Linked DNA regions of Homo sapiens. The protein of the gene in region 7 purifies or fractionates together with the protein of the main gene of each other region. This does not show direct contact. Each region holds a gene or a part of one and is shown on either strand. Other genes may lie near its edges.

Evidence for each region.
Region 1: the proteins of AP1B1 (region 7) and NUMB purify together in Homo sapiens (co-immunoprecipitation; 2 studies listed by BioGRID and IntAct, with this or other methods). This does not show direct contact.
Region 2: the proteins of AP1B1 (region 7) and AP1G2 fractionate together in Homo sapiens (co-fractionation; 3 studies listed by BioGRID and IntAct, with this or other methods). This does not show direct contact.
Region 3: the proteins of AP1B1 (region 7) and AP1S3 purify together in Homo sapiens (affinity purification with mass spectrometry; 2 studies listed by BioGRID and IntAct, with this or other methods). This does not show direct contact.
Region 4: the proteins of AP1B1 (region 7) and EPS15 purify together in Homo sapiens (affinity purification with mass spectrometry; 3 studies listed by BioGRID and IntAct, with this or other methods). This does not show direct contact.
Region 5: the proteins of AP1B1 (region 7) and BMP2K purify together in Homo sapiens (affinity purification with mass spectrometry; 2 studies listed by BioGRID and IntAct, with this or other methods). This does not show direct contact.
Region 6: the proteins of AP1B1 (region 7) and AAK1 purify together in Homo sapiens (affinity purification with mass spectrometry; 2 studies listed by BioGRID and IntAct, with this or other methods). This does not show direct contact.

What each region holds. Positions count from the first base shown.
Region 1 is NC_000014.9:73,287,542-73,291,889, forward strand, and holds part of NUMB (protein numb homolog), read right to left. Parts: intron 1-4,348. UniProt on the Homo sapiens protein: Regulates clathrin-mediated receptor endocytosis. Plays a role in the process of neurogenesis.
Region 2 is NC_000014.9:23,561,525-23,565,234, forward strand, and holds part of AP1G2 (AP-1 complex subunit gamma-like 2), read right to left. Parts: intron 3,676-3,710; coding exon 3,595-3,675; intron 3,317-3,594; exon of another isoform or gene 3,203-3,316; intron 3,137-3,202; coding exon 3,038-3,136; intron 2,865-3,037; coding exon 2,809-2,864; intron 2,698-2,808; coding exon of another isoform or gene 2,640-2,697; exon of another isoform or gene 2,636-2,639; coding exon 2,522-2,635; exon of another isoform or gene 2,333-2,521; coding exon 2,192-2,332; intron 2,115-2,191; coding exon 2,060-2,114; intron 1,979-2,059; coding exon 1,856-1,978; intron 1,759-1,855; coding exon of another isoform or gene 1,681-1,758; exon of another isoform or gene 1,575-1,680; intron 1,070-1,574; coding exon 980-1,069; intron 892-979; coding exon 764-891; intron 584-763; coding exon of another isoform or gene 568-583; exon of another isoform or gene 553-567; intron 543-552; coding exon 438-542; intron 350-437; exon of another isoform or gene 112-349; coding exon 1-111.
Region 3 is NC_000002.12:223,830,713-223,835,060, reverse strand, and holds part of AP1S3 (AP-1 complex subunit sigma-3), read left to right. Parts: intron 1-4,348. UniProt on the Homo sapiens protein: Subunit of clathrin-associated adaptor protein complex 1 that plays a role in protein sorting in the late-Golgi/trans-Golgi network (TGN) and/or endosomes.
Region 4 is NC_000001.11:51,396,608-51,400,955, reverse strand, and holds part of EPS15 (epidermal growth factor receptor substrate 15), read left to right. Parts: intron 1-2; coding exon 3-38; intron 39-1,790; coding exon 1,791-1,924; intron 1,925-4,348. UniProt on the Homo sapiens protein: Involved in cell growth regulation. May be involved in the regulation of mitogenic signals and control of cell proliferation. Involved in the internalization of ligand-inducible receptors of the receptor tyrosine kinase (RTK) type, in particular EGFR.
Region 5 is NC_000004.12:78,912,025-78,915,130, forward strand, and holds part of BMP2K (BMP-2-inducible protein kinase), read left to right. Parts: coding exon 1-9; 3' UTR 10-3,106. UniProt on the Homo sapiens protein: May be involved in osteoblast differentiation.
Region 6 is NC_000002.12:69,636,729-69,641,076, reverse strand, and holds part of AAK1 (AP2-associated protein kinase 1), read left to right. Parts: intron 1-4,348.
Region 7 is NC_000022.11:29,381,304-29,385,570, reverse strand, and holds part of AP1B1 (AP-1 complex subunit beta-1), read left to right. Parts: intron 1-4,267. UniProt on the Homo sapiens protein: Subunit of clathrin-associated adaptor protein complex 1 that plays a role in protein sorting in the late-Golgi/trans-Golgi network (TGN) and/or endosomes.

The DNA.
Region 1 (4,348 bases), on a different chromosome or scaffold from region 7:
TAATTTTTGTATTTTTAGTAGAGATGGGGTTTTGCTATGTTGGGCAGGCTGGTCTCCAACTCCTGGCCTCAAGTGGTCTACCCAATTCAGCCTCCCAAAGTGCTGGGATTACAGGCATGAGCCACCACACTCGGCCCAAATGTCTGTTTTTATGAAAGCAAGATGTTGCAAATTCCAGCTTAAAATTGTTTTAATAGATTAGTATGCCATATTAATTTAAATGAATAAATTTTCTAAGGTAGTGCTTATGATGGTTCAATTCACTGTTACAAGCCTTGGGGTAAAGTGATAACCAGCAACCTGTGCTTTTGTAAGCAGCCATGGAGAACTCTTTATCACTTAGGCTCTGTCATGTCAGCCCTGGCCAACAGCTTAGAAGACTCTATGCAAGGTTTCAAGCCTTGACATGCAAGCTTCTAGTTGCCCTTTGGGGAAGCAGTGGGAATATTTACCAGCCACTTCTAAGAAACTACTGGAAAGGCAAGGCAAATTTCAGGAGCTTAATGCACTGTTAATATGTCTAGGAAAAAAAGGTGCAAACTTAAAACTTCTGATAAACAAATATAATTCCAGTGATTAAAAAGGAATGAGGCTGGGCATGGTGGCTCACATCTGTAATCCCAGCACTTTGGGAGGCTGAGATGGGCAAATTGCTTGAGCCCAGGAGTTTGAGACCAGCCTGGATAACACAGTGAGACTCTGTCTCTACCAAAATAATAAAAAAAATTAGGCCAGGTGCGATGGCTCACACCTGTAATCCCAGCACTTTGGGAGGCTGAGATGGGTGGATCATGAGGTCAGGAGCTCGAGACCAGCCTGCCCAACGTGGCGAAACCCCGTCTCTACTAAAAATACAAAAATTAGCCGGATGTGGTGGCGGGTGCCTGTAATCCCAGCTACTTGAGAGGCTGAGACAGGAGAATTGCTTGAAGTCGGGAAGTAGAGGTTGCTGTGAGCTGAGATGGCGCCATTGCACTCCAGCCTGGGCAACAAGAGCAAAACTCCGTCTCAAAAAATAAATAAAAATCAAAATAAAGGCCGGGCACAGTGGCTCATGCCTATAATCCCAGCACTTTGGGAGGCTGAGGTGGGCGGATCACCTGAGGTCAGGAGTTCAAGACCAGCCTGACCAACATGGAGAAACCCTGTCTCTACTAAAAATACAAAATTAGCCAGGCATGATGGCGCATGCCTGTAATCCCAGCTACTCGGGAGGCTGAGGCAGGAGAATCACTTGAACCCAGGAGGTGGAGGTTGCAGTAAGCCACGATCGTGCCATTGCACTCCAGCCTGGGCAACAAGAGCAAAACTCCGTCTCAAAAAAAATAATAATTAAAAAAAAAGAAAAAGAAAAAATTAGTCGAGTGTGGTGGTGGTGTGTGTCTGTGGTCCTACTTGGGAGGTGGGAGGATCACTTAAGCCTACAGTAAGCTCTAATTGTGCCACTGCACTCCAGCCTGGGTGACATAATGAGACCCTGTCTCAAAAAACAAACAAACAAACAAAACTAACAATGAGACAAAAGCTTTGCTGTCTCCCCTTTCTGAATCCCCCCTCTAAGCAACCCTCCTCATTTATGGCCCTCCGTGCTTTTAGGTTTTCCCCCATACCCTTCCTATCTTCCTCTAGCTCTAATTCCCAACTCTACCTCCCAACCAAACACAGGCAAAAGTGAAAGCATGTTTTCATCCACACTGTCTACTTATAAAAGAATTAAGCAGATAAAACTGGTTTGTGTATGGGAGGAGTGGAGGACGTATATAAACAAAACACTGCTTTATATAGATACACTGGATTACCCAGAGTCAATTTAATAAATTCAATGGATGATTTTTAGCAGGGTTATCTGTATTTTAGACCATTTTGCTAATTGTGGAATAAAAAAGCTAGAGATGGTACAATAATTGTTGGCATCATTCACAGTGAGAAGAGATATTTGGGAACAGGAAGTCTTTTGTGGTGTTCTCAAAATCACATCACGTAGGCAGCTGCTCCTACACACGGCTCTGAACAAGTCGTCTCACTGGATTTTGCATGACAGTATTAGTTATCATAAGGACAGGTAAGGTTTAAAATGCTTTATGTCCCTAAGATTTTACTACCTTTGACTACTTTTTAAAAATTTTTAAACTTTTTAAAAAAACTTTTGACTACTTATTTAAAGACTGATAGAATTACTCTATGAATCCACATGAGTTTCCATCTAACTTCCCAGTAGGATGACATTAGGCCAGATGTTAAAGCATGAAACAGGAGTACTGAAAGATTCTTAGAATGTGTTTGCATTTGAACGCAGGTCTATTATAAGGACAGAGCTACAGGTCAAGGAAGCTTGCTTATTCTTTCTCCTAGGCCTAGGGCAGAAGTTGTTGAAGAGTGACCTCATCCCCAACCAACAGCATCATCTGGGAACATTTAAGTGCAAATTCTTAAGTACCAACCCCAAACTCACTGAATGAAAAACGCTGGAGATGGGGCCCAGCAATCTATGTTTTAAAACAAGTCCTCCAGGTGATTTTGATACAGTAGAACTATTGGCCTAGGAGATTCAAACAGGCTGCCGGGCCACTATTTGACAACAAAATGGTTTTTAAGTTATTATCTGGAAACTCTTGAACTCCAGATTTTTAAAGTGTAGTGATAGCAAAATATACCCAGTTTGTGGTTTACTTAGGGTCTGAGAAACAGAAGACAAAAGCACAGTTTTGTTACTTCAACTCATTTCAAAGCACCTGTGTCAAACCAATGAAGGACAGCTTACACAATATTCGCTAAAATTTTTGGAGTAATGTGGCCCAGAACCTATGCTAAGTGTGCTTATAATCTTTATCCAATTTAGTATTCACAACCACTTTCTCCATTTATAGAAGTGTATACCAAGACAGAGAATGTTAAGTAACTTGCCCCAAATCCCACAGCTAGTAAGAACCAGAATCAGAACTGAAACCCATATCTGACTCAGAGCCTGAGCTCTTAGCATTTGTTTACACCAATGTCTCAAAGATCTTTAAACAATTTTGGTCAATTTTTAGACCATGGCCACTACTTATCTTCCAGATTAAACGTTGGCAAGAGCTTTACTGACCTGTAACCTTCACGAATGGCTATACTGCCTATTCTGTCTCGACACTTGCTGTACATACAGTTTGAGTATCTCTTTTCTGAAATGCTTGGGACCAGAAGTGTTTCTGATTTTAGATTTTTTTCAGATTTTGGAATATTTGCATTATACTTAACAAGCTGACATCCCAAATCCGAAAAGCCAAAATCCAAAATGCTCCAATGAGTATTTCTGTTGAGTGTCATGTCGGTGCTCAAAAAGTTTAGAATTTTGGAGCATTTCAGATTTTCGGATTTGAAATGCTCAACTTATAGTAAAATCATTGTCATTTAAAAGAGACTTGTCTTTCATGTTAAAATGCTGGGTAATTTACATAAAGAATGAAATTATTCTCTATTTTAAAACAAAACTTCTATCATGCAACAATTTCTAGCGTTGTTCATTCTACCGTAACTTAGTATTTCTGTTTAGTTTTTGTTTTTTGTTTTTTTTTTTTGAGATGGAGTCTTGCTTTGTCACCTAGGCTGCAGTGCAGTGGTGCAATCTTGACTCACTGCAACCTCTGCCTCCTGGGTTCAAGCGATTCTCGTGCCTCAGCCTCCTGAATAACTGGGATTACAAGCACCCGCCACCACAGCCGGCTAATTTTTGTATTTTTAGTAGAGACAGGGTTTCATCATGTTGGCCAGGCTGGTCTCCAACTCCTGACCTCAAGTGATCTGCCCACCTCAACCTCCCAAAGTGCTAGGATTACAGGCGTGAGCCACCGTGCCTGGCCTATTTTTGTTTTATTTTTGAGACGGAGTCTTACTGTCGTCCAGGCTGGAGTGCAGTGGTGCAATCTTGGCTCACTGCAACCTCTGCCTCCGAGTTCAAGCGATTCTCCTGAGTCAGTCTCCCAAGTAGCTGGGATCACAGGCATGCGCCACCACACCTGGCTAACTTTTGCATTTTTAGTAGAGACAGGGTTTCACCATGTTGGCCAGACTGGTCTTGAACTCTTGACCTCAGGTGATCTGCCTACCTCGGCCTCCCAAAGTGCTGGGATTACAGGTGTGAGCCACCATGCCCGGCCAGTATTTCTTTTTTCTTTTTTTTTTGGCCAGAGTCTTGCTCTGTCACCCAGGATGGAGTCAGTGGCACAAATCTCAGCTCACTGCAACCTCTACCTCCTGGGTTCAAGCGATTCTTCTGCCTCAGCCTCCCGAGTAGCTGGGACTACAGGCATGCACCACCACGCCCAGCTAATTTTTTTGTATTTTTAGTAGAGACGGGGTTTCACCATAT
Region 2 (3,710 bases), on a different chromosome or scaffold from region 7:
GGCACTGGGGCTGCTTCTGAAAGCTGGGCTGCTTCTTTGCTTTCCTTTGCTTCCTCATCAGCCTGAGGGCCATCTCGCTCCACAAGAGGCATTTTTTCCAGGATGGCAGCCCTGAGAGGATGGAATGCAAGTGTGCCTCTGTGTGGTCTCTGGGCCTTTCACAAGAGGCATCTAGGATGAGGACTAGGAATATGGAGCCCTGGGCACATGGTGGCTCAGAAGTACCCTTCTGATTTCCTAAAATGACATGTTGTTGCTGATTTTCAGATGAACAAGGAGGGTTGGAAGCCAGCTTAGCTTCAATTAACAGTGGGTGGGAAGCTCTCACCGTGGATATGGAAGAACACAGGTGAGGATGAGGCCCTTGTACCTAGAAAAGGGCATTTGGGAGAGGGCAGGGGTTTGGGTCCCATGCTGCAGCACAGTGCTGGACACACCTCATGTGGTCGTATTTCCGGAAGAGTGTGTCATACTCCACAGCCCGCTGCTGCAGCTCCACGTCCAAGCAGCTCCCGTAGATGGACACCACCTGGCGGATGCGGCTGGGCCAGTGTAGTATGTAAGTGGCTATGGCAGTGTGCCACTGCAGGATGTGGCAAGAAGGAAAGGCCCACGGAGCAGGGAAATACCCAGATTTGGCTCAAAAACAAGAACCTAAGGGCTAGGGGGTAGGGAGGGCTGGGCATGTATGCCTGGAAAGAAACTCAAAAATGGGTGGACCCAGTGACAGGCCATCTCTCAAGGGGCTGGGACCCCTTCTTACTTGTTGTCCCCACAGAGGCGAGTGCTGAGCTTCATGAGGGCTGTGAGGGCATATCCTCGAGTGGCTGGCAGGGACATGTGGGACTGCAGCACCTTTTCCAGCAATGCCAGCACTTCCTCTTCGTCCACCTTCAGACATGGATACAGTTAGTGGCCCTGGTGCAAGTCCTGTCCCCCTGACAAGTCCCTCCTCAGTGTACCCCCAATGAGGTCTCACCTGAAGGGGCTCAATCTCCTCGCAGTTCCCTGCCAGCAGGAGGTCCCCATACTCCCCAATGCACCAGGCTGCCACCTGCACCAGTGGTTGCTACATGGGATAAGAAACTGCTGGGCTGGCCAGGCATGGTGGCTCAAGCCTGTAATCCCAGCGCATTGGGAGGCTGAGGCGGGAGGATTGCTTGAGACCAGGAGTTCAAGACCAGCCTGGGCAACAAAGCGAGACCCCCCCCATCTCTATTTTAAAAAAAAAAAGAGAGAGAGAGAAAGAAAGAAACACTGCTGGGCCAGTGTCTGAGGTCCCCTCCTCACTTCCAGACCTGGCAATATCCCTTTAGGCAGTGCAGAGATGGTGGGGGGTTGGAGGAGTGGGGAAAGGGAAGTTTGTTACCTGGCTCCCACTGCCCTCTGGTGGCCAAGCATCAGAACTACATGGCCTAACCAAACAGGATGGAAATGTGAGAGGGTCCCTCCCTTGTGGAAGGGGTGGATGATGCTTTCTGCCCACCCTATTTAATTAAGATGGAAAAGGGGGCTATAGATACTGGCTGGCATCTGTTAATTCATTCAGCATTCAAGGTAATAATAAAACCTCATAAACACAAGAGCTTTAATCTCAAGGCAGCTCTAAGAGGCAGTCAGGGTACATGGAGCATAAGGGAAGTTAGTCATCTGTAGTTACATAACCAGGAGGTACCAGAGTCAGGACAAAAGCCCAGATGTTCTTAAAAACAGGGCTCTGTGCTCAGATGTCTTCTGCACTGTGTAAGCAGCTGTGACCTTGAGAGAAAAATTGGAATCTAGTAGGGAGGAGGTGGCCCAGGATGGGCAAGGGAGTGGTTGGGCAGCCCTGGGCCTAGGTAGGTGGGAATGGTACCTGGGAAATGTCTTCTGCCAGGGCATTGTAGAGGCGGCGCACAGAGTAGGCATGTAGCTCCTGGGCCCCCCCAATCAGCTGGGTCAGGTTGGCCACTGCATCATCCCGCACATGGGTGCCCGCCTGGAAGGTGTGGGCATGGCCAAGTCAGTGTGGTGAATCTTGACCACTTCTGCCCAGCTCTCTGACTGGCCCCTGCCTCACCGTTGTCAGCACATGCAGGATGGTGTCTATGTGCCAGCGTTTGGTTGGAGCAAACCTAGGGGATATATGGCTCATCAGTCCTGGTACTGACGCTCCCCAGATTCTACCCTCTTCGACTCCTGGGCACCTCACCTCTCTGCAGCCAGCAGGATGCCTGAGGCACAGTCAGCCCGTAGGTCAGGAGGGCAGGACTCCAGAAAGGCCTGCAGCTCTTGCATCATGGCTCGCACATTGGAGCTATTTACCAGAGCCAGGCTTAGTTCCAGGGCTCTCCTGGCAGGAGAAAGAGGTTTCCATGCAGGTAGCCCAGGTCATCCTGGTCCATGCCTCAGGCCCTCTGCTTCCCCAGGGACCTGTCCCCCTTAGTCCCCTTACTCCAGCTGCTCTAAACTGGCTCGAGTCTTGGCCACAGGGCACTGGGAACCTCTGCCCTGCCCTCCTGTCCCCTCTATCACTGCTCACCGGCTGAGGGAGGCATCAGTTTCCCGTAGACATTCCACCACAGTGGGCCGATGCCGCTGCACAGCACTGTGATCAGACTGCACCAGTCGAAGCAGTGATGTCAGGGCTACATACCTGGTCAGGATGGGGGAGGTTCTATCATACCATGGCCATCAGCCCCCACTCCCCGTCCTGTCCTGGGTATAGGGATAAGATAAGAGAGAAATGGATCAGGAGGCTCTGGAGGAAGGAGGGCAGAGGGCCAGGGGATCAGTGGCACAGCCTAGGTAGACAGTTGGGACTATTACCTAATGTTCCTGTCACTGTTGAGTAGGAAGCGACCAAGAATGTTGACAGCTAGAACCTATGAGAGGCAGAAGTTGGGGTCAGTCGGAAAGGAGCAACCTGCTCAGCCATTGAGGACTGGGAACACATTGGCGCAAGATGATGGGGCTAGGAGGGAGAAACCAGCAAGCAGGACCTGTGTGGGTGAGGTGGTGGGCGGGGCCGTAGTGGGAGAGGCATAAGGGGTGATACCCGTAGGCCAGCTGCAGAGCGGATATCCATGATGGTGAGTACTGTCTCAAACAGGACCGCATTTCCGGCATTTCGGCTGGTGTCCGTGTTAGTGGCCACCTGAGTGGATGAGAGAGGAGATGTATCTGCTCAAGGCCCTCCTCAGGTCTCCTTTTTTTGATACAGGGTCTCACTCTGTCGCCCAAAGCTCACTGCAGCCTTGACCTCCCAGGCTCTGATGATCCTCCTGCCTCAGCCTCCTGAGTGGCTGGGACTACAGGCACATGCCAACAAGCCCAGGTAATCCTCAGGATTCTTGAAGGACTCCAACATGTTATCTGTCCATCCTTCAACCATCCAACAAAGTTCCCTGAGGCTCTACTATGTGCCAGGGCCAGCCTGGGCACTGGGGCAATAGCACTAAGACAGACTGTGTCCCTTCTTCATGGAGTTCACTGTCTAGAGGAGATGGAGAGGCAATTACACGGCCACTGCACAGTGACGAGTCATGTGAGGGGCACCCAGGGCTGATGGGGTCTCCAAGCAACACAGCTAACCAGTGCCCTCCCAGGCCCCACCTGGGCCAGCAAGTCATTCATGGTCTCACTGCTCTCCTCGTGGTTCCGGCCCAGGATCCGAAGCAGACGAAGTATCTGGACCTGAGGTTGGGTTGAAAATGGAAAGTTGGAGGGGT
Region 3 (4,348 bases), on a different chromosome or scaffold from region 7:
TCATAATAATACTAAGATATTAATTTTCCCATTTCATTCTCATTCTCACAAGACTACAGTGAAGTTTTCTTGTGTCTACATAAGCTGAGATAGTACAACAGATTGAACACAGATGCAGATAGGAAAGTCCAACTGTCTTTGATAAGCCCAGACATTAAGGAGATTTGCAAAATTGTAAAACAGTGCCATGCTTTTCACTAATTTTTTTTTTGCTTTGGAAAAATATTGTTATTGGTCATAAAAATGTTATTTATGTTTAATGTGTAATAGGTTTACTATTGTTTTTTCTTTTTATTTATTTATTTTTGAGACAGGGTCTCTGTGTCGCCCAAGCTGAGTGCAGTGGTGTGATCACAGCTCACAGCAGCCTCAACCTCCTAGGCTCCAGCAACCCTCCTACCTCAGCTTCTTGAGTAGCTGGGACTGTAGGCATGTCCCACCATGCCCAGCTATTTATTTATTTATTTATTTTGAGACAAGGCTTGTTCTATCACCCAGAGTAGAGTGCAGTAGCATGAACATGGCTTACTGCAGCCTCAACCCAGTGGACTCAAGGCATCCTCCTACCTCAGCCTTCCATGTAGCTGGGACCACAGGTGTGTGCCATCATGCCCAGGTAATTTTTTGATTTTTGTATAAATGAGGTCTTACTTTGTTGCCTAGGCTGGTCTTGAACTCCTGAACTCATGTAATATTCCCACCTTGTCCTCCCAAAGTGCTGAGATTATAGGCATGAACAATTGGGCCCAGTGGAATTTTTTACTTTTTGTAGAAATGAAGCCTACCTATGTTGCCCAAGTCGTATTATTTTAAAATATGTTAATATCTATTTTTTCATTTTAATTTCAAATACAATAAATATCAGTGGATATAACCCACATAAACAAAAAGGTCTTTGGGATTGGCAGGCGGATCACCTGAAGTCAGGAATTTGAGACCAGCCTGATCAACATGGAGAAACACTGTCTCTACTAAAAATACAAAATTAGCTGGGTGTGGTGGCGCATGCCTATAATCCCAGCTACTTGGGAGGCTGAGGCAGGAGAATCGCTTGAACCCGTGAGGTGGAGGTTGTGGTGAGCCAAGATCGTGCCATTGCACTCCAGCCTGGGCAACAAGAACAAAACTCCATCTCAAATAAATAAATAAATAAATAAATAAATAAATAAATAAATAAAAAGAGTGTAAAGGCATCCAAAAAGTTTCATAATCACTGTCCCGGAGTTTAACAGGTACCATAAGTGAATGCGTGTGAAGGCGCTTCAAACAGCTTTGCCATTGTAAATGCTCAGTAACCATCACCTCTCCTCTGTTATTACCTTCAAGTTGTAAGAAAGAATTGGCGGCCCTCGCTAGTGCCCAGCTGCTCTGAGACCTTTGTTGAGGCTCACTGTGTAACTCCCTGTCTTTCCTGCTGCTTCATTCCTGACTTTTGCTGACTTTTATGCTAGGAAACTGGTAGATGCTTACTGGCAGATCTAGGCACCTAGTACTTTACACACAGAAAATGGTTCTTGATTCCATGGTGCCAGTGACCCTGGTTTCTGGCACAGAGATTTCATATCTGGTGCATGTTGGGACTGTGTTTGTATCTGGATCACACTGTTTGAAGCAACTGTGTACTCCATCTCACCTTTTAGAAATCTCTACCTTGGAAAACAGTGTTAGGGCTATTGCACTTCAGGAATCCCACGAGCTGAGCCCAGTGTGTTTAAAAAGGCTTATGGGGCAGAATGTACTGTTGAATGGTTGGCAATGAAGGAGGATTATGTTGTTTATGTATGTATGTATGTATGTATGTATGTATGTATGTATGTATTTTGCCTTTAACAAGATAGCTGTGGGGATGTATACAGTGACATTTGAAATGCTTTGGGGGTACTTTTAATAAAAGCACAAGTGGACTTTGATGTATGTAGTCCATGTGCTTCTGAAAAGTTGAGGTGACACAAAACCACATTGTGAACAAAACAGTAGAGCCACCCATTGAAAGAAACTCAAATGTTGATCCCTTTGGAAACATGAATAACCGTCTTTTTGTGTTGCAAATTCCGTTCTCATAATGTATGTTATTTATGTAAAGTAGGATAGATTTATGCTAAAAAAAAATCAAGGATTTTTTTTGGGTGTACGATTTAAAATCTGACTTGAGAGAATTTACCAAACAGAACTGGAAAGCCATTTCTTATTCAGAAGATATTTAAGTTTGAAATAGTAGGAGTACACCCTTCTCCTAAAAAAAAAAAAAAAAAAGAAAAAAGAAAAAAAATTCCTTTGTTCATTTTAATCTCAGGGAGTTGTTGAGGGTGAGGGTGGAAAAACCGAACTATGAACCTGTAGGTCCTGCCACGCCCCCTTCCCCTTCTGTATCAATTTTATGTTCTGAAGCTTGAATGAATTGTAATAAGCATGTAATGATTTTGGCAATTTAAGTTCCAGTTTGAGGGTGAAGCGGTCTATTACACTAATGAGTGCTTTCCTCCTCGGAGACTTGGTCTAGGCTGCTGGCCAGCAGTTAGTGTAAGATCGAGGGCTTTGGGATCAGGGGAGAAATGACCCTTTGTGGTGTTCAGTTGTCCCAAGAGGGCTCTCCTCCACTGGCCCTTCCCACAGGTCTCCCAAAAACACCAGTGAGACTTGTATTTACTCCTCACCAGGATTGTTACTACCGAGTTTCTATCACTCGTTTTGTTTGTTTGTTTGTTTGTGGTGAGTATTGTCAGCTGCTGATAACTTTTGTGTGGCATTTTGCCAACAACAGCTGTAAGGAAGCAGCACACTGTGTATTTGCTGAACGGTGTTGTCAATGTCTGCCCTTTTGGGTCCCGTGAATTATTTCATTTTAAGACATAATGATAAAATTACTCCCCTTTCCAACACACACACACACACACACACACACACACACACACACACACACACACAGAGAGAAAACTCCTTTAATAATCCCCAGAATAAGTCCTTTTTTTGATTTTTTTTTTTTTGAGACGGAGTCTTACTCTGTCTCCCAGGCTGGAGTGCAGTGGCACGATCTCTGCTCACTGCAAGCGCTGCCTCCCGGGTTCACGCCATTCTCCTGCCTCAGCCTCCTGAGTAGCTGGGACTACAGGCTCCCGCCACCATGCCCAGCTAATTTTTTTGTATTTTTAATGGAGATGGGGTTTCACCGTGTTAGCCAGGATGGTCTTGATCTCCTGACCTCGTGATCTGCCCGCCTCAGCCTCCCAAAGTGCTGGGATTACAGGCATGAGCCACCGTGCCCGGCCAACAGAACAAGTACTTCTTGATGTCTTCATGAATTGTCCTTTTGATATTGTTTTGTTGTTACGATAGCCAGTGTTTCTCCCAGAGACCTGAAACTTCACTGTGGTTCTGTGGTTCATTTCTTCCCTGGGGCCTGTCTTTTTCTCTCTCAGAGTCTCCCTTTCTGGTATACCTAGTTTTCCCCGATACTTTCTCTGTTTAACCTGAAGTATCCAGGAAAACTCCCTTTAAACCATTTGAAGCTCCCCCATAATCTATGACATGAAAGAATGTACACAAATGTCAGAGGCAAATGCTCCTAAATTCTCTCAGTGGCATATGAAACTATCCAGCCAGCACCCTGACTAAGGAAATGTATTTCTTGACCGGGCACGGTGGCTCACGCCTGTAATCTTAACACTTTGGGAGGCCAAGGTGTGTGGATTGCTTGAGTCTGGAAGTTCGAGACCAGCCCAGGCAACATGGCGAAACCCCATCTCTAGAAAAAATACAGAAAGTATTAGCTGGGCGTGGTAGTGCACCCATGTAGTCCCAGCTATTTGAGAGGCTGAGATGAGAGGATCACCTGAGCCCAGGAAGTCAAGGCTGCAGTGAGCCATGATTGTGCCACTGCACTCCAGCCTTGGTGACAGAGTGAGATCCTATCTCCAAAAGAGAAAGGGGCCAGGGTTGGAGGCTCATGCCAGCACTTTGGGAGGCTGAGGAGGGAGGATTGCTTGAGCCCAGGAGTTTGAGACCAGTGAGACTCAGTCTCTATTAAAAAGAAAAAAAAATGTATTTCTTGTATCGCTGCTAGCAATAAGGTAAATTAAAAATCTTAACAATGAAAAGGGGATACTGAAAATCATTCAAGTTAGAAATAGAATGTTATCGACAATCATGAGGAAACTGGCCTCTGCCAACATCCCTCTTCTAAAAACTTTCCTACAGGCATCTCTGGGCTCTGAAATTCCTGGCTCTCAGTAGCTTCTGAAACTTTAGTCTTTCAGTGCGATGGGGCATGGACCTAGTACAGTCAGTTAAGAATAAGTGCACAAGAGATTCTGTATTTAATGTCCTTGTTGGATCTTCTCTAACAGGATTT
Region 4 (4,348 bases), on a different chromosome or scaffold from region 7:
AGGTGATCCTTTCAAGGATGATCCTTTTGGAAAAATCGGTCAGTATCTTATTGAGTTTCATCTTAGCTTTCATTCATTTCTGCTTAATAATAAGCTTATGTTATTTAGGTCTGAAACTGAAGCCCCAGTAAGATGCTCTATGTGCCTGGCATTTTCAGAAAGAGAGTAGTAAATTCTTTTGATTTTGCTTAATGAATTGTTGCTTTACTTTTACTTCTTCTTTTTTTTTTTTTTTTTTTTTTTGGTGTTTTTTGTTTTTGAGACAGGGTCTTATTCTGTCACCCAGGCTGGAATGCAGTGGTGTGATCATGGCTCACTGCAGCCTTGACTTCCTGGGCTCAAGCAATCCTCCTGCCTCAGCCTCCTGAGTACCTAGGTCTACAGGCTCATGCCAGCATACTTGACTGATTTTTTTTTATTTTTTGTAGAGACAGGGTCTCACTGTGTTGCCGAGGTTGGTCTCGAACTCCTGGGCTCAAGCAGTCCTCCTGCCTCAGCCTCCCAAAGTGCTGCGATTACAGACAGGTGTGAGCGACTGTGCCCGATAGCTTTACTTTTTTAAAAATGACATTAGTGTTTAGACTTTGGTGCTTTAAATATTTATTCTGATTCCTCCTTACTAACTAAAGGTTTGGTGAGCATAATGATCTATACTGCTTCAGGGTTTAGAATGTAATTTTGTTTTCCTAAGATTATAGCCCACACGTGTGATTAGAGGCAGAGAATCTTGAAGAATTACTAAAACATCAGGCTTTTTGAGATATTCTTTTTCTGGGAATTTTCATTAGAATAATGCAAATCTTGTTTACCATTTAGTTTTGCATCCCAAACCTGTTCTAAACTATTGGCTGTTAGCTTTGAGCTCAGAGAGAAAAATACATTTAGAAGTTTTTATTGTGTTTTCTTTAGTTACGGTAGCGTAGAATAAGGGGACTTAAAATTGGATCCCTTGAAATTATATGTTAATTTTAAAAATAAGTTTATTAGGTGGAAGGTTCTGTATCTTTTATCAAAATTGCAAAGGAGTCTGTGAAATAAAAAGTACTCAGCTTAGATTCTACAGTATTTCAAACTGTCTTTTTGGATTTTTTTTTTGAGACAGTCTTGCTCTGTTGCCCAGGCTAGAGTACAAGTAGTGCGGTCTTGACTCACTGCAACCTCCGCCTCCCATGCTCAAGCTATTATTCTCATGCCTCAGCCTCCCGAATAGCCAGGATTACGGGCGCGCACCACCACGCCTGGCTAATTTTTGTATTTTTAGTAGAGACAGGGTTTCACTGTGTTAGCCAGGCCGGTCTTAAACTCCTGAGCTCAAGTCATCCGTCTACCTCAACCTCCCAAAGTGCTGGAATTACAGGTGTGAGCCACTGCACCTGGCCCAAACTGTCTTTTTGTTTGTTTGTTTTTGAGACAGGGTCTCACTGTCACCCAGGCTGGAGTGCAGTGGCAGATCTTTGCTCACTGCAGCCTCTGCCTCACAGGTTCAAGTGAGTCTCCCACCTCAGCCTCCCGAGTAGCTGGGACTATAGGTGCGCACCACCATGCCTGGCTAATTTTTGTGTTTTTTAGTAGAGAGGAGGTTTTGACATGTTGGGCAGGCTGGTCTTGAACTCCTGACCTCAAGTGATCTGCCTGTCTCAGCCTCCCAAAGTGGTGGGAATGCAGACGTGAGCCACTGCACCTGGCCCCAGACTGTCTTTTAATTAAGGCACTGATCATACCTTCAAGTGATGGGAAATTTAGTGCAATAATTTTTTTTTGTCTCTTATATTCGTGCCTTATTTTTTTAGATCCATTTGGTGGTGATCCTTTCAAAGGTTCAGATCCATTTGCATCAGACTGTTTCTTCAGGCAATCTACTGATCCTTTTGCCACTTCAAGCACTGACCCTTTCAGTGCAGCCAACAATAGCAGTATTACATCGGTAAGTGGGAGAATTAAAAACTGTTAAGTTAAATGGATAATAAGTGTCCTAAGCAAGTTTCTTGAAATACATAGTGATGAAAGAACCCTCATTTAGATTACTTCTAATGGACCATATAAGAATTTCAGTCTCATCCCAATTCATTTAGTTTTTGGTTCAGACTGGTATTTCATAGTTTGATTACCCACTGGAATTAACTGGAATGACTGAACGGAGTCCAAAAGTGATGTTCATCTTTCAAGAGACTAAATCTTATCCTATTGAGGATACTAAAAATGATTGGAAATTTATAAGCCAATCTTACATAAAACTTTTCTGAAATGTTTGGTATATTATTGAAATAATGAAAATTAAAAGAATTTTAGAAAAATAAAATCGTTTATGTTATTTCATAGACACATCTGGAATGTTAATTCTGCAAAGTACAAATTCTCACTAAATGTCAAGCTCTCTTGAGAATGTACATACCTACAGCAATCACTGTTTAATAACCACATGCCTGATCCAGGTACTGGTGTGTGCTTTACATTCATTGTTTCTAATCTTCACATCAATTTTGCAAAGTAGGTGTTGATATCCCTATTTTAAAAATGAGGACACTGGGACTTAGAAAAATTAACATGTTTAAGGTCCTATAGCTAGTTGCTGTTTTATCTGGAGGCTTTAAAAAAATCTTCATGGCTGGGCGCGGTGGCTCACGCCTGTAATCCCAGCACTTTGGGAGGCTGAGGTGGGCGGATCACGAGGTCAGGAGATCGAGACCATCCTGGCTAACACGGTGAAAACTCGTCTCTACTAAAAATACAAAAAATTAGCCAGGCGCGGTGGTGGGTGCCTATAGTCCCAGCTACTCAGGAGGCTGAGGCAGGAGAATGGCGTGAACCCGGGAGGCGGAGCTTGCAGTGAGCCGAGATCGCGCCACTGCACTCCAGCCTGGGTGACAGAGCGAGACTCCGTCTCAAAAAAAAAAAAAAAAATCTTCATCTTGTGGATATTTAGAAATACTCAAAGGAGAATAATGTAATGAAATATTTTAACAAGCTTCCATGCATCCATTACCCAATTTCAATAGTTAGGAATGGTTTTGCAGGTTTTTGGTTTTGCTTTTTAATTTGTATTTTGAGACTTCGTTTTTGAGACCACAGTTTCATGTCTGTAGGTAAACTGAACCTATAAAGGACCAGTTAACTGAGAAGCATTTGAAGCAAAAAATTTGTCTTCTAGTACTATTAGATTAAGAATATTTCCTTTAAAATGTAATTGATTATTTTAAAGATAATAGGTTTTGTATTATTGAAAGTTGCTTCTTTTTTGTATTCAGTAAAGAGCTGCTTGGCTAAGAACTGGTGTTTTCCATTGAATAAAAACTGGACAGATACCTTCGTGACTGAATATTTTTCGTTTCCCTGGGCTGCTGGATACTCTGTTTTCCTATAGCACTTAGTTTGCAATGTGGACCCATTTGCCAAATTCTTCTAAAATTGCTGCTACTGGAATTCTTCTCCTCTCACCTTCTTATTCTAGCCTCTCATTCTCCTATCATCTAAAGAGCAAGAAAGCTAAATTAGCTCTTCTAATTTAAAAATGAATACATTCCTCTTGTCCTGTCCCCCATGAGATTTTTCTACCATTTGTTTTACTGACTTTTATTCCCAGTTTTCTAAAGGAATATTGTCCTTGCTTTACAGCTTGTAATTTCACCATTCAAAACAAAAAACCAGATTGGCAATATAATAATAGCTGCAGTTTATCTAATTTCCTCTGTGTGCCAGGGATGGTGCCAAGCTCTTTATATGCATTGTCTCATTTACTTTTCACAGTAATCCTATGAGGTTTACGTAGGTTAAGTTGAGGCCAGGTGTGGTGGCTCCCACCTCTAATTCCAGCACTTCAGGAGGCCAAGGCAGGAGGATCACTTGAGGCAAGTAGTTCACAACCAGCCTGGGCAACAAAGTGAGACACTGTCTCTACAAAAAAATTAAAATATTAGAGGTGTAATAGCATGCACCTGTAATCCCAGCTACTCGAGAGACTGAGGTGGTAGGATTGTGTGAGCTCAGGAAGTCAAGGCAGCAGTGAGCCATGATTGTACCACAGCACTCCAGCTTGGGTGACAGAGTGAGATCTTGTCTCAATTTAAAAAAAAAAAAAGATAGATTAAGTTGGTAGTAAGTTAGTAACTGGTAGAACTTGACTCAAGCCAAAATCTAAGATTTTCACCAATACAATCTGGAAATTTTTAAAAAATTGCCCTGCTAAACTCCCCAATTATCAAACTGACATAGAGTTTTGTGGCCCCTTATTCCTTCATGGGCTGCACAATCTATCCTGTTCCCCCTGCTATCCTGATGGCCTTTTAGGGTGGTTGCACAGTATATGATGAAGGACTAGAAACTAAACCTGACACACATGTGGTTATGCCCT
Region 5 (3,106 bases), on a different chromosome or scaffold from region 7:
AAACAGTAGATACTTCTGATGGATTCTCGGCATTAACTCCTGTTTCAAAAAAGTGTGAACAGTTTTATGAATTTGAAAGAAAATTTGGTAGCTCTTTATAGCATTCATTCTTAAAGATCAGTCAGAATAGGTGATTTCTAAATAAACCAAATAGAAGAATGAAGTATCTCTACAGGGTAGTAACTTGATTCCTCTTCAGGAGAAAAGGGAGCTAAATTGCAAGCTCTAACTAAGGGTTTCTGCTACTGACATCACAACACAGAAATGCAAGTGTGGTACTTCCAGTGAAAGCACATGGCACCTTTCTAGGTGTGTAGCCACTGAGAAGGGACAGTGAAACTGTTATTTTTGATATCAGAATGTCATTTTTATGTGCATATCCCTAAAATTAGGGTTATTTCTACATACACTAGTTACACTTGTGAATTTTTTTTAAGGTCTCTTTTAATTTCCAGACAGTTAAAAACAATCTAGTTATCTTAAAGCATTAGAAAGTTATTATCTGGAGAGTGCAGAGATTTCAGTCCATACACCTTTCTCCACAAAGCAGAGCCAGAAGTAACTGACTATTGTGCCTAAAACTCTGTTTCATTTTTAAAAACAAGTGCCATTAAAATGGAATATCTAATGATAAGCATATGAAATAATGTGTAATTAGCTCAATTTAACTATTCCACAACTTACATATTCCAAAACAATGTTATACATGATAAATATATATAATTTTTGTCAGTTAAAACAAATTAAAAAAATGGACTATCGTCGCACAGAAGCCTAGAACAAAAATATGAAGAGAAATATCTGACATTTGTAAAGAAATTATAAGAAGAAAAAAAGATACAGAACAGAAAACATTCACTACTTTAGAAACACTTTATGCATGGCTTCTTGCCCCAAACTTTTATTGTGATGGCCCTAATAAAGCAGATTATTGGAAAAATTGGAGGACAAGGGTTGTATAAAAATTTTATTTTATGAAGAAAATATGTAGCGGAAACTGAATTTTCAAGACATTTACAATGTGAAATCATGTTGCATTTAACAATGTACTTTATTAGCAACTTCACCAAATATTCCCCAAGTCATAAGCAACAATTATTTTTATTAGGTTTTGGGGGGTGGAGTAGTTTTAATAAAGTGCACAGAATGGTGACACCCACAAAGCCTTATATAAAGGCAGGATTCATGCATCCTGCTGCAAGTACCTCTGCACTAATATACCAGATCCTAAAATGCATATAAGGTGGACTAGCATCTTAATTCTGCTAGTTGATTGTGTCTTTACTGAAAAGAACCCAGCTACCAATTTGCCTTTTTTTACACCACAAATCCTAATTAGAAACTTGAGGTTTTATAGAAATCATTTAATGATAGAGATTACATATGTGAATTAATGTGAATATAGTATCTGTGCTTCCTGTGTCTATGACTATTTTAAGATATAATTGTGCTGCGCTATCAGATTAACATTTGGAAGTTTCTAGAACAGTTAATGCTATTTACAGAAAGGAGTAGAAACTCATCAACTGGCACTCTCTTTGATTTTTATATTTTAAATTAACTCTCTTCGATCTCAAAGTATATTTTACGAGTAATTTTATTAGGAATCTCTTATAGTGCCCCAATGGGATAAGCTATTTGCCTATTTTCACAGTTCTGAACTTGGAAAGAAGCAAAGTATATGTAACTAAACCACATATTTGTCTTTTTATTGCTTTTTCCCTTCTTTTATATGCTAAATCAAATATAGATTTGTGGATAGGGAAGCAATATGTGAATCACAATGTAGCAGAGGCAGACCAAGCATTACATTATTATTTAGAGCTGGACTGCACCAATTACTTGTCCTCGTGCCAAAGGCAAATATGTTTGCACCTTTTTTTTTTTTTCTGATTCTCAGGTTGATTAATACTGCTAATGCAAATGCTCAAGTAGATGTTTAAAAACTTTACAAAATAGATTCAAGTGATACTTTCTTTTAAAAGTGAAGAGTTGATGATTACACATAGTAAATTCATGAACTACAGTAGGTTTGTATCAAACAATTTTTTTTAATGAAAATCTGTTGAGGTGTACACAATATGCTTCTTGATTGTATTAGTCCTTGGTCTCTGCTAGACCTCATGAGTTTCATCATTTAGAAAAGGGGTAGAGGATGAACTAATGTCTCCTTCAGATGTAAACATGAAATACCTAGAGTTTTACTTGCTTTTCAATACACTGAATAATTTTAAATGATTCTGACACTGATGTAGACCCTTTGACTTATAAATTCTGAGGAAACAACTGACAGCATAAAATATTTACATTCTTATAACACAGCACAGTGACTTTCTTCTTTCAAGATTGTAGCTCAGAGAAAAGATACAGGATTCAATTGGGGGTTCAATAGGATAGAAATGGAGAGATTCCTTTGTGTTGTAGTAGAGGCATTTTCCTAAGGAGTATAGATTTATACTTTGCATTTTCATTCATCATCCCCCAGAATCATGGTCAAGGTGTAGGTCACTCCACACAGCTGATGCTCAGGTTATTCCCTTGTGAGAATTATGAGAATAAAGCTCCCAAGATATGTGAAAGTGCTTAACACAGTACCTGGCACACAGCACTCAATAAAAGTTTGGCTCTATTATGGGATGGTTCAATTCTGGTTTAAGGAAGGAAGAAAGGTTATTATATATGTACCACTAAGCAAATATATATATATATATATATTTGGGGTTTTTTTTCCCTAATATTATTTGGGTGTCCCCTGTGCTTCTTTAGGATGTAGTTATAACTAAACCTGTTATACTTGAACATCACTAAGAGAAGTAAATTATTATGAAGCTAGCAAAAATCTTGAGGCCAAAGTTGTTTCTTAACAGCTTTAATAATGCTTGTTGATTTTGAATAATCCTTTAAAAAGTGGACCATTTGCTTATTTTAATATCACGTCAGTAAAATGTTAGTATTAAAAAGATCAGCTTTTTATGGCATTGAAGAATGTATCTGCTAAGACACAAAAATTGCATGGTAAGTATAATAGGTGGAGGAGGAAAGGTTGTAGGCCGGATGAAAATTTAACTGACTAGAACATTTATTCAGGAGTGTAATTATTTTCCCT
Region 6 (4,348 bases), on a different chromosome or scaffold from region 7:
ATCTTTGAGAACTGCGCATCACGTATTGTGATATTTTTACACAGAATTTAGGACTTGTAGCTCTGCATTTATTCATTCAACAGTTTATGGAGTTGCCTGTGAAGTGCCAGGTGCTGTGCTAGGCTCTGGGGGTATACTGTTAAACTAGATGCTAGCTTTTACCAACTGCTTTAAGAGATGGAAAATAGCCAGTTATAGTGGATTGGTAAATGCCATCATAGAGATAAACTTAGGGTGCAGTGGCCCCCAGTTTTAGGGAGCCCAGGATTTCTGAAGGAAGTGACTGAAGAGTGAGTAGGAGTTAGTGTGGTGGCACCATGGGCAAAGACAGAGTAGCGAGAGAGAATGTCACGTAAAACTGGGTCTGGCTATGCGCCCTTTTTGTGTTCTTTGGCTTAAGTTGAGTTTGAATTTGTGGCTCTTAGAAGTATGTAGATATGTAGGAGCCAGTATACAAAGTATTTATGTAGCACCTACCAAGTCCAAAGACCCTATGAAGTTCTGAGATGGATGAGGGAGGTCTATAGTGTGATTGACATCTGCCTTTAAGGATCTGCCAATGAATTTGGGAAGATGAGGCATACATTCACACATACAGTAGCATGGTTACCAGCACTGTCTGTAGAGTCAGACAGATCTAGGTTCAAATTCTGGATCTGTTCTTTACTAGCTGTGGAACTGTAGGCAAGACATTCCAAACCACTCTTGAATCTCTGTTTCCCTGTGGCAGTGGTTCTCAAAGTGGGGCATACTTATCACCTGCGAGCTTGTTGGAAATGGAGATTCTCAGGCCTCACTCTGTAGGCTGTGGGTGTGGGGCTTAATAAGTTCCTGGAGAGATTCTGACGCAAGGTCAAGTTTGAGAACCACTGCTTAATGGGCTGGTCATGAAGATTAAATGAGGCAATATATATAATTAACATTTTCAGGTGTTCAATAAATGGTAGCCATTACTTACCAGCAACGTTATACATCATATGTATATATGTGGGGGGGGAGAGAGAGAGAGAGAGAGAGAGAGAGTGTGTGTGTGTGTGTGTGTGTGTGTGTGTGTGTGTGTGTTAAAGGGGAGTGGGAGCAATGTGAAAGCTAGTTGAGCTGCAGCAATCTGAAGCAATTCCTTTCCCCCATTGTTAGGGGACAGAGCCAGATGTTCTTTGCAGAGTCCTCACCAGCTCCTTAAAGGCTTAACAGACGTTTTGGGTAGCCATGCTCCTTCCCTGGACTCTCTTCTCTGTGAGTCCCCGAGTGCTGACTTATCTACAGTTCTAGCCAGAGTTGTTTAAGGACCACAGGAGTTGTACCCTGTGTGCCCAGAGCGGTGGCTAGGCAGTTTAGGGAGGAGTGGTGTGAGAGGCTTCAAAACACAGACCAGATTACCACCACATTCCGCTGATGATCTCTTTTTCTCTAGCGTGGGTATTGGTCTGTGCTTTTTCATAAGGAATTGCAAGAACCCCAAGGAGCAGGTGCTGGGTAAGACAAAAAGATGTCGCACTGCCATACCTCCCCTGGTAGCATCAGCCTTCCTGGCCTGGTTTCACTAACTAGTCCAGCAGGGGCTGTTTGGGGGAAGTGAAGGCTTTAAGTTATGAGTTTAGAGGAATATGGCTATTTCTAGGCTGGGTGCCAGGGAGAATATTTTCTTTCTAGCTTTCTCAGCAAAGATGCCATGATGAGAAGCTAAATCATGTCTAAGTTAATGGGCATATGATATCAAGGGAAGATTTGGTTTAAGCTTCCAGAATGAGCTCAATGGGAAAATTGGAGCAATGTTCAAAGAAGGATTGAGAAGCTGTGCTTTTATCATACTTCCTTAGCTATACGAGGACTTATATCTAAGCTTTAAACAATAAATGTTTATTTATTACTGTGTTGAAGACAACATTCTGGAACTATAAGGTGGACTAGATGGCTCCTCAGAACAGCTTTCTAATTTATATTCAAGGAATCCAGGTCCAAGGCTGATGAGAAGTACCAAATGTCCACATCAGTAAACTTTGATAATTTCTCCTACCTACAGAGCAAACTAGTAAGGCTTAAAAATGTGTGTGAAATCACCAAAAATTCCATTAAAGGCACATAATATGTTGGTGGTATCAATATGATACACGTACGTGCCTCTTTGTGGCAGGCACTGTATTAGGTTCCAGAGATCCTAAGATGAATGGGACACAGGCCTGACTCTTAACAGAGCTCAACACCTGAGATAAGTGTCCAGCACTTAAGCGTGGCCTTTGACATACATACCTTAGATGGTAAAAGATGTTATGATAAAGAGCCTGGGGGTGAGAGTTCATAGGTGACATGAAGTTTGAACAGGAATAGAAATTGCCCAGCAGATGTTCCAGATGGGGGTTACTCAGGACCTCTCAGGCTGAGAGAATAGTATAGGCAAAGTGGTGAAACAGCATGATAAATTTTGAGAATACTGACTAGTTTAGTGTTACCATTTTCATCAGTACACATTTCCTCCCCAGAATCAAGGAAAGAAGGACAGAGGACACGGAGTGGTAGAATGAAATTCTTTAAGTTGCTCCCTGGAGGTGCTTGCTACTCACTTTCTTCAGTGGCCCTGGGCCTTTTGAAAGACTGATGAATAGGTACCAAGAATGCACGGCTCCCCTCCTGTGCCTCAGCCCCGTGCCAATTGTGGGGAAAGGGAGCAGCGAGTGTCTGGGGAAAGAGTGGTCCCAGAAGGTTTGATAAGAGGCTAGAAGCTTAAGCAAAAGCAGGCAGGGAAGGGAAATGACCAGTGTTACCGAAAGGTATGAACAGGGGAGATATTGAAGGTGTTTGACCAGAGCAGAAGGTACATTGGAGAGAAAAGGAAGGACTAATTTTATGGAGAATCTTGAGTGCCAGGCAGAGAGATTTAGTTATAAGCACCTGAGACCTTCTCTTGACGCAAACACCAATTTGATCCCTCCCACTTCAGATGTCTTTGCCTGCTGGGAAGTCTGGTTTTTTAGAGGCAACTGCAGATTTTCAGGGGGTGGTTTGTGAATGGTGTCTTCTTCCTGGCTTTGGGCATGATGACGGTTGTAGCTTTGCTAAATATAGCCAAATCTAGAATTCAGAAATGAAGTCCAGAATAAGCAATTGCCATGGTCAAACTCTTTCTTTCAGTCTTTCTAACAAAGTAAAGCTCATTTAATAACAAATAATGATGAAGAGAGAGCAGCAGTTTCACGTGACTTTTGAGTGGGAGGGTATGAGGGGAGACATACACTTGTACCCTGGTAGCTAAAACGCCATGTAGAGTACACAAGAAAGGTTTGATAAATATTAACAAAACACACAAAAAATATTACTGCATCAGAGCCGTCATTTTAACTTGCAATATTTGAATGTTGACGCTTCGGAAAGGGGACTAGTACCACCTTCATCTTGCACCCTTTCAAGGATGCATGCCTTCTGAGCCTACTTATGAGGTAACTGTGACATCCGCATCTGAAAGAGAAAAAAATGATAATAATAGAAACGTATTGTCTATTAAAGTAGCATCTAGCACTGTGAGCTAGCAGAGACTTGCCTCCGGTCTATTTTATGGAGCCATATTTTGGTGTGGTGGAAAGAACACTGCATTATGAATTGGGAGATCAAGGTTTGTCAGTTCATTCACTCCCTTATTCAGTAAATGTTACTGAGCATTCATTATGTGCCAGGCATCATGCGGAGATAAATGAGACATGGCTGTGCCTTGAGGACCTCACAGTCATAGGATTTCAGATATGTGAGCAAATAGCTGCAGATGCTGCGCTGGAGTCATGTAAAAGAGCTGGGGAACAGACCCAAGGCAACAATTTTGTGGGTTGGGGAGTAGTCAGGGAAAGCTAAAGAAAGGTGACATTTGAGGTGTGTCTTCAAAAATGAGAACTTATTGCTAGATGGACAAGGTAGAAGAACATTCTAGGCAGAGAGAATAACATGGCCAAAGACACAAAAGCAGAAAAATAACTGCTTACTGGGGAGCTGTATGTTTTGAGATAGCGATAATCTACTAGTGGCCCAGGGCTGTGCTGTTCAATAAAGTAGCCCACTAGCCACATATGGCTATTTAAATTATCTAAAATAGGCCGGGTGCAGTGGCTCATGCCTGTAATCCCAACACTTTGGGAGGCTGAGGCAGATGGATCACCTGAGGTCAGGAGTTTGAGACCAGCCTGGCCAACATGGTGAAACCTCGTCTCTAGTAAACACACAAAAATTAGCCGGGCGTGGTGGCGGCTACCTGTAATTCCAGCTACTTGGGAGGCTAAGGCAGCAGAATCGCTTGAATCCGGGAGGCAGAGGTTGCAGTGAGCCAAGATCCTGCCACTGTACTCCAGCCTGGGTGACAGAGTGA
Region 7 (4,267 bases):
GTGGCTCCTAGTTGCCCTCGGGCTAAAACTCACATTCCTTAGCATGGCATTCAAGGCCCTTTGGACTCTGACCCCTGCCTAGCTCTCTTTTGTCATCTCTCCTGCTCCACACTCACCTTTTCCCAAGCTCCAGTCAACCTCAGCTACTTGCTACTTCTGCAAGCACCAACTCTTTTTCTTTTTTCGAGACAGGATCTTGGCTTGTTACCCAGACTGTAGTACAGTGGAGCTGTCATAGCTCACTGCAGGCTCCAACTCCTGGGCTTGAACGATCCTCCTGCCTCAGCCTCCCAAGTAGCTAGTACTACAGATGGGTGCCACTGTGCCTGGCAAATTGTTTTTATTTTTTGTAGAGATGGAGTCTTGCTATATTGCTCAGGCTGGTCTCAAACCCCTGGCCTCAAGCAGTCCTTCTGTCTGGGCCTCCCAAAGTGCTGGGATTACAGGCGTGAGCCACCACACCTGGCCTCCCAACTCTTTATACCTCTCTGTCTTTGCTTTGCACTCTTCCCTCTGCCTGAACACCATTTCCTGCTCTCCCAACCTTACCTGCCTAGCTGGAGTGCTACTTGGTTCTTCCCATCTGATCATCACCCCTAGGTCTGAGCTAGATGCCCCTCCTTGATGCCCTCTGGCAAGGGTCACAGTGGGTTGTGATTGTTTATTTGGCTCTCTTCTAAGTAAATAGCTCTTTTTTTTTTTCCAGACAGAGTCTCGCTTTTTCGCCCATGCTGGAGTGCAGTGGCGCGATCTTGGCTCACTGCAACCTCCGCCTCCCGGGTTCAAGCAATTCTCATGCCTTAGCCTCCAGAGTAGCTGGGATTACAGGCACCTGCCACCATGTTTGGCTAATTTTTGTATTTTTAGTAGAGATGGGGTTTCACCATGTTAGCCAGGCTGGTCTCGAACTCCTGACCTCAAGTGACCCGCCTGCCTCGGCCTCCCAAAGTGCTGGGATTACAGGTTTGAGCCACCGTGCCTGGCCAGTAAATAGCTTTTAATCCTTGACGAAGACCTGCCTTAACTACGTCTCCAGCACCTAGTGAGGTGTCTGGTACATAGTTGGTGCTCAGCAGGTGTTGAATGAGTGAATGAATGAATATTGCATTGAATTGTTAGGATTCCTTGACTCCTAAGGGGTTCAAAGCACTTTCTAGATTATCTCCTGTCCATCCTCATGTCACCTCATAGAGACAGGGAGAAATCTGATCAGTGCTGAGACTACTTTCAAACTACAGTTGGTACCACCAGACAGCCATCAGGGTGTTTCAGGGCTTCCAGAGACCTGGGAATCTGGTACGGAGCAGGGAAGTGGTAAACTCTCTCTCTCTCGGTAGTAGTAATAGTGGCTAACATTTATCAGGCATTTTGTGGGCCGGGCACTGCTAAGGGCTAGGTATGTATTGACTTGTTTTAGCCTCACAAACCCTTCAGGCATGTAACATTGTAGTTCCCATTTTACAGTTGTGCTGCAGTTGTGCCTGTTTGCTTTGTAGAACCTGGGAGAGCCCCTGTCCTACCTGCAATGGCTGCCTTCACCTACCCACTCCTTGTGTTTAGATTGTCCCCTCTTATATAGTGGAGCTGAGGAAGGACTTGGCTATGGTTCTACACTCCTACACCTCATGCTGTCTGGGTCTTTAGCCTTGGACTTGACCTCTGACCTCTGTCAGGAAGGGAGGCCTCTCCTAGTTGTGGTATGAGTGTGGCCTAACTCTGGGTTGACCCCACAAGGCCCAGAATTCATCAGTTACTGGGATGCCTTAGTCACTGATCCCCCAGGTTACCACCAATTACCACAGTCTACCCTGTGGACTCGGAGCTGGAAGGTGGTAGGTTTGAAAGTCAGGTCTCAAAAGCTTTTTTTTTTTTTTTTTTTTGAGACGGAGTCTGGAGTGCAGTGGCGTGATCTCGGCTCACTGCAAGCTCTGCCTCCCAGGTTCACGCCATTCTCCTGCTTCAGCCTCCTGAGTAGCTGGGATTACAGGCGCCCGCCACCACGCCCGGCTAATTTTTCTATTTTTAATAAAGACGGGGTTTCACCGTGTTAGCCAGGATGGTCTCGATCTCCTGACCTTGTGATCCGCCCACCTCAGCCTCCCAAAGTGCTGGGATTACAGGCGTGAGCCACCGCACCCGGCCCAGGTCTCAAAAGCTTTAAAACTGAACCTTCAGTGTTCATTTTTGGCATTTCAGTAGCTGAGTTCCATAGAGGAATAGACTTGGGTGGTAGATACTTTTTACCACACCCTCCTTACATTTAGGATCTTAAGCCTATTGGGAGCAGAATAACACAATTTCAGTAGAGCCAGCCTTGGGTCTGCTGCTGTGGTGGTCTTCATTGCCCGATCTCCGAGTATTGGGTGGCTGGCTGCTGGGACACTGAGGACAGAGACTTTCTAAGTCCAGTATTCATTCAGTATTTATCGAGGCCTGCTAATGCCTGGTGCTGGCCTATGCTGATAGGTCAACAGGCCAGATATGGCTTCAGGCTTCAGATAAGCCCTCTAGTTGCTTACTTCATTTTAATGGGAGAGAGAGACAAAGAAGTAGAGAAAAAAATGCAATGATTAGAAAAACCAATAAGCCACAAGGGAAACAAAAGGCATAGCAGCCAGAACTTATTAAAATATAGGTCAGATGTCAGGACTCCTCTGCTCAAAACCCTCCAGTGGCTCCAGCTCACTCAGTAAAAGCCAGAGACCTCACGCTTGATCATAAGGCCCCCTGCATTCTCCTGTGACTTCCTGACCCACTGTTTTCCTCATTGCTCACTCAGCCACATTCACTTCCCTTCTGTTCCTCAGACATGCCAGGCACATACTCACCTTTGCACTGGCGATCTCTTTTGCTTGGCAGGCTCTTTCGCAGACAGTGTCACCTGTCACCTTCTCAAGGAGGCCTTCTATGGCCACCCTAGTTAAATTTTAACTTCCCTTCCTCCCCTCTCCCCTCCCTATCCTCCTTCCCTCCTCTTTTTTGCCTCCATTGTGTTTATCACTATCTAAGATGTTATATATTTTACTCACTTATCTTGCTTACGGTCTCTTTCCCCCATTAGGACATAAACTCCATGTAGGGAAGGATTTTTGTCTGTTTCTTTCACTCCTGCATTCCCAACATGTAGAAGTGTTTCTGGTACACGAAAGATGCTCAGGAAATGTATGAATAAGAACACTGAAGGATGTGGACAGAGAAATACCTTCTTAAGGTTGTACATGCATGGCCAGGTGCCGTGGCTCATGCCTGTAATCCCAGCTACTTGGGAGGCTGAGGTGGGAGGATCATTTGAGGCCAGGAGTTCAAGACCAGCCTGGATAATTTAGCGAGACTCCACAAAAAACTTGAAAAGATTAGCTGGGCATGGCACACGCCTGTAGTCCCAGCTACTCAGGAGGCTGAAGCAGAATTGCTTGAGCCCAGTAGTTTGATGCTGCAGTGAGCTATGATCACACCCCTGCACTCTAGCCTGGGTGACAGAGCAAGACTATCTGTCTCTAGCAACAACAACAAAAAAGATAGTACATGTAGGAAAGGTATTTTTTTTTTGTTTCTTTTTTTAAGCATCAGAGGTATCACGCTGAAGGGAAGTTATCTTTGAAATGAGATCATCTAAGCTGAGATTTGAAGGATAAATTGGAGCAGTTAGGAGAGGATAATCCAAGCAGAAGGATCAGCAAGGGTAGAGATAGTGAAGAGTTGGCTGTTAGAGGAACAAAGAAGGCATGTGGGCCTGGAGGCAAGGACCTGGTACTTATATCCTGTGCCAGAGCCCCCCACCTTCTGCAGCTCTGTCACTCTGAGCTGATACCTATGGGAGCAGGTGAGAGTGACTTGGCCTCACTGAACGTTTCTCCCACTGGAGATGTTGCCACCTGATCTTCTACCCTTGCCATTTCTTCTCTCTCTCATAATTTATTCACTTAACTTCCATTTATTGGCTGTAAATGTGCTAGGGGTCTGGCATGTTCAATTTCAGTATAGTTAGAATAGCTTGACAATCAGAGCAGATGTATCTCTGATCCTGGATAACCCCGTGAATGGAACATGGAGAAGCTGCTCTAGCAGAGGTTGGTTTACAAAACATGAAATTTGCCCAAGAAGAGAGTTGAGCACTGGTCATTCAGCTACTTATTGAACACCTGTTTGCCAGGTACCAGCCTAGGAGTCAGGAATATGATAGTGAACAAAATGGACAAAATCCTTACCCCCATTTACATTAGGGAATTTATAGGGGGAGAAAGAATAGACAACGTAAGTATATTTT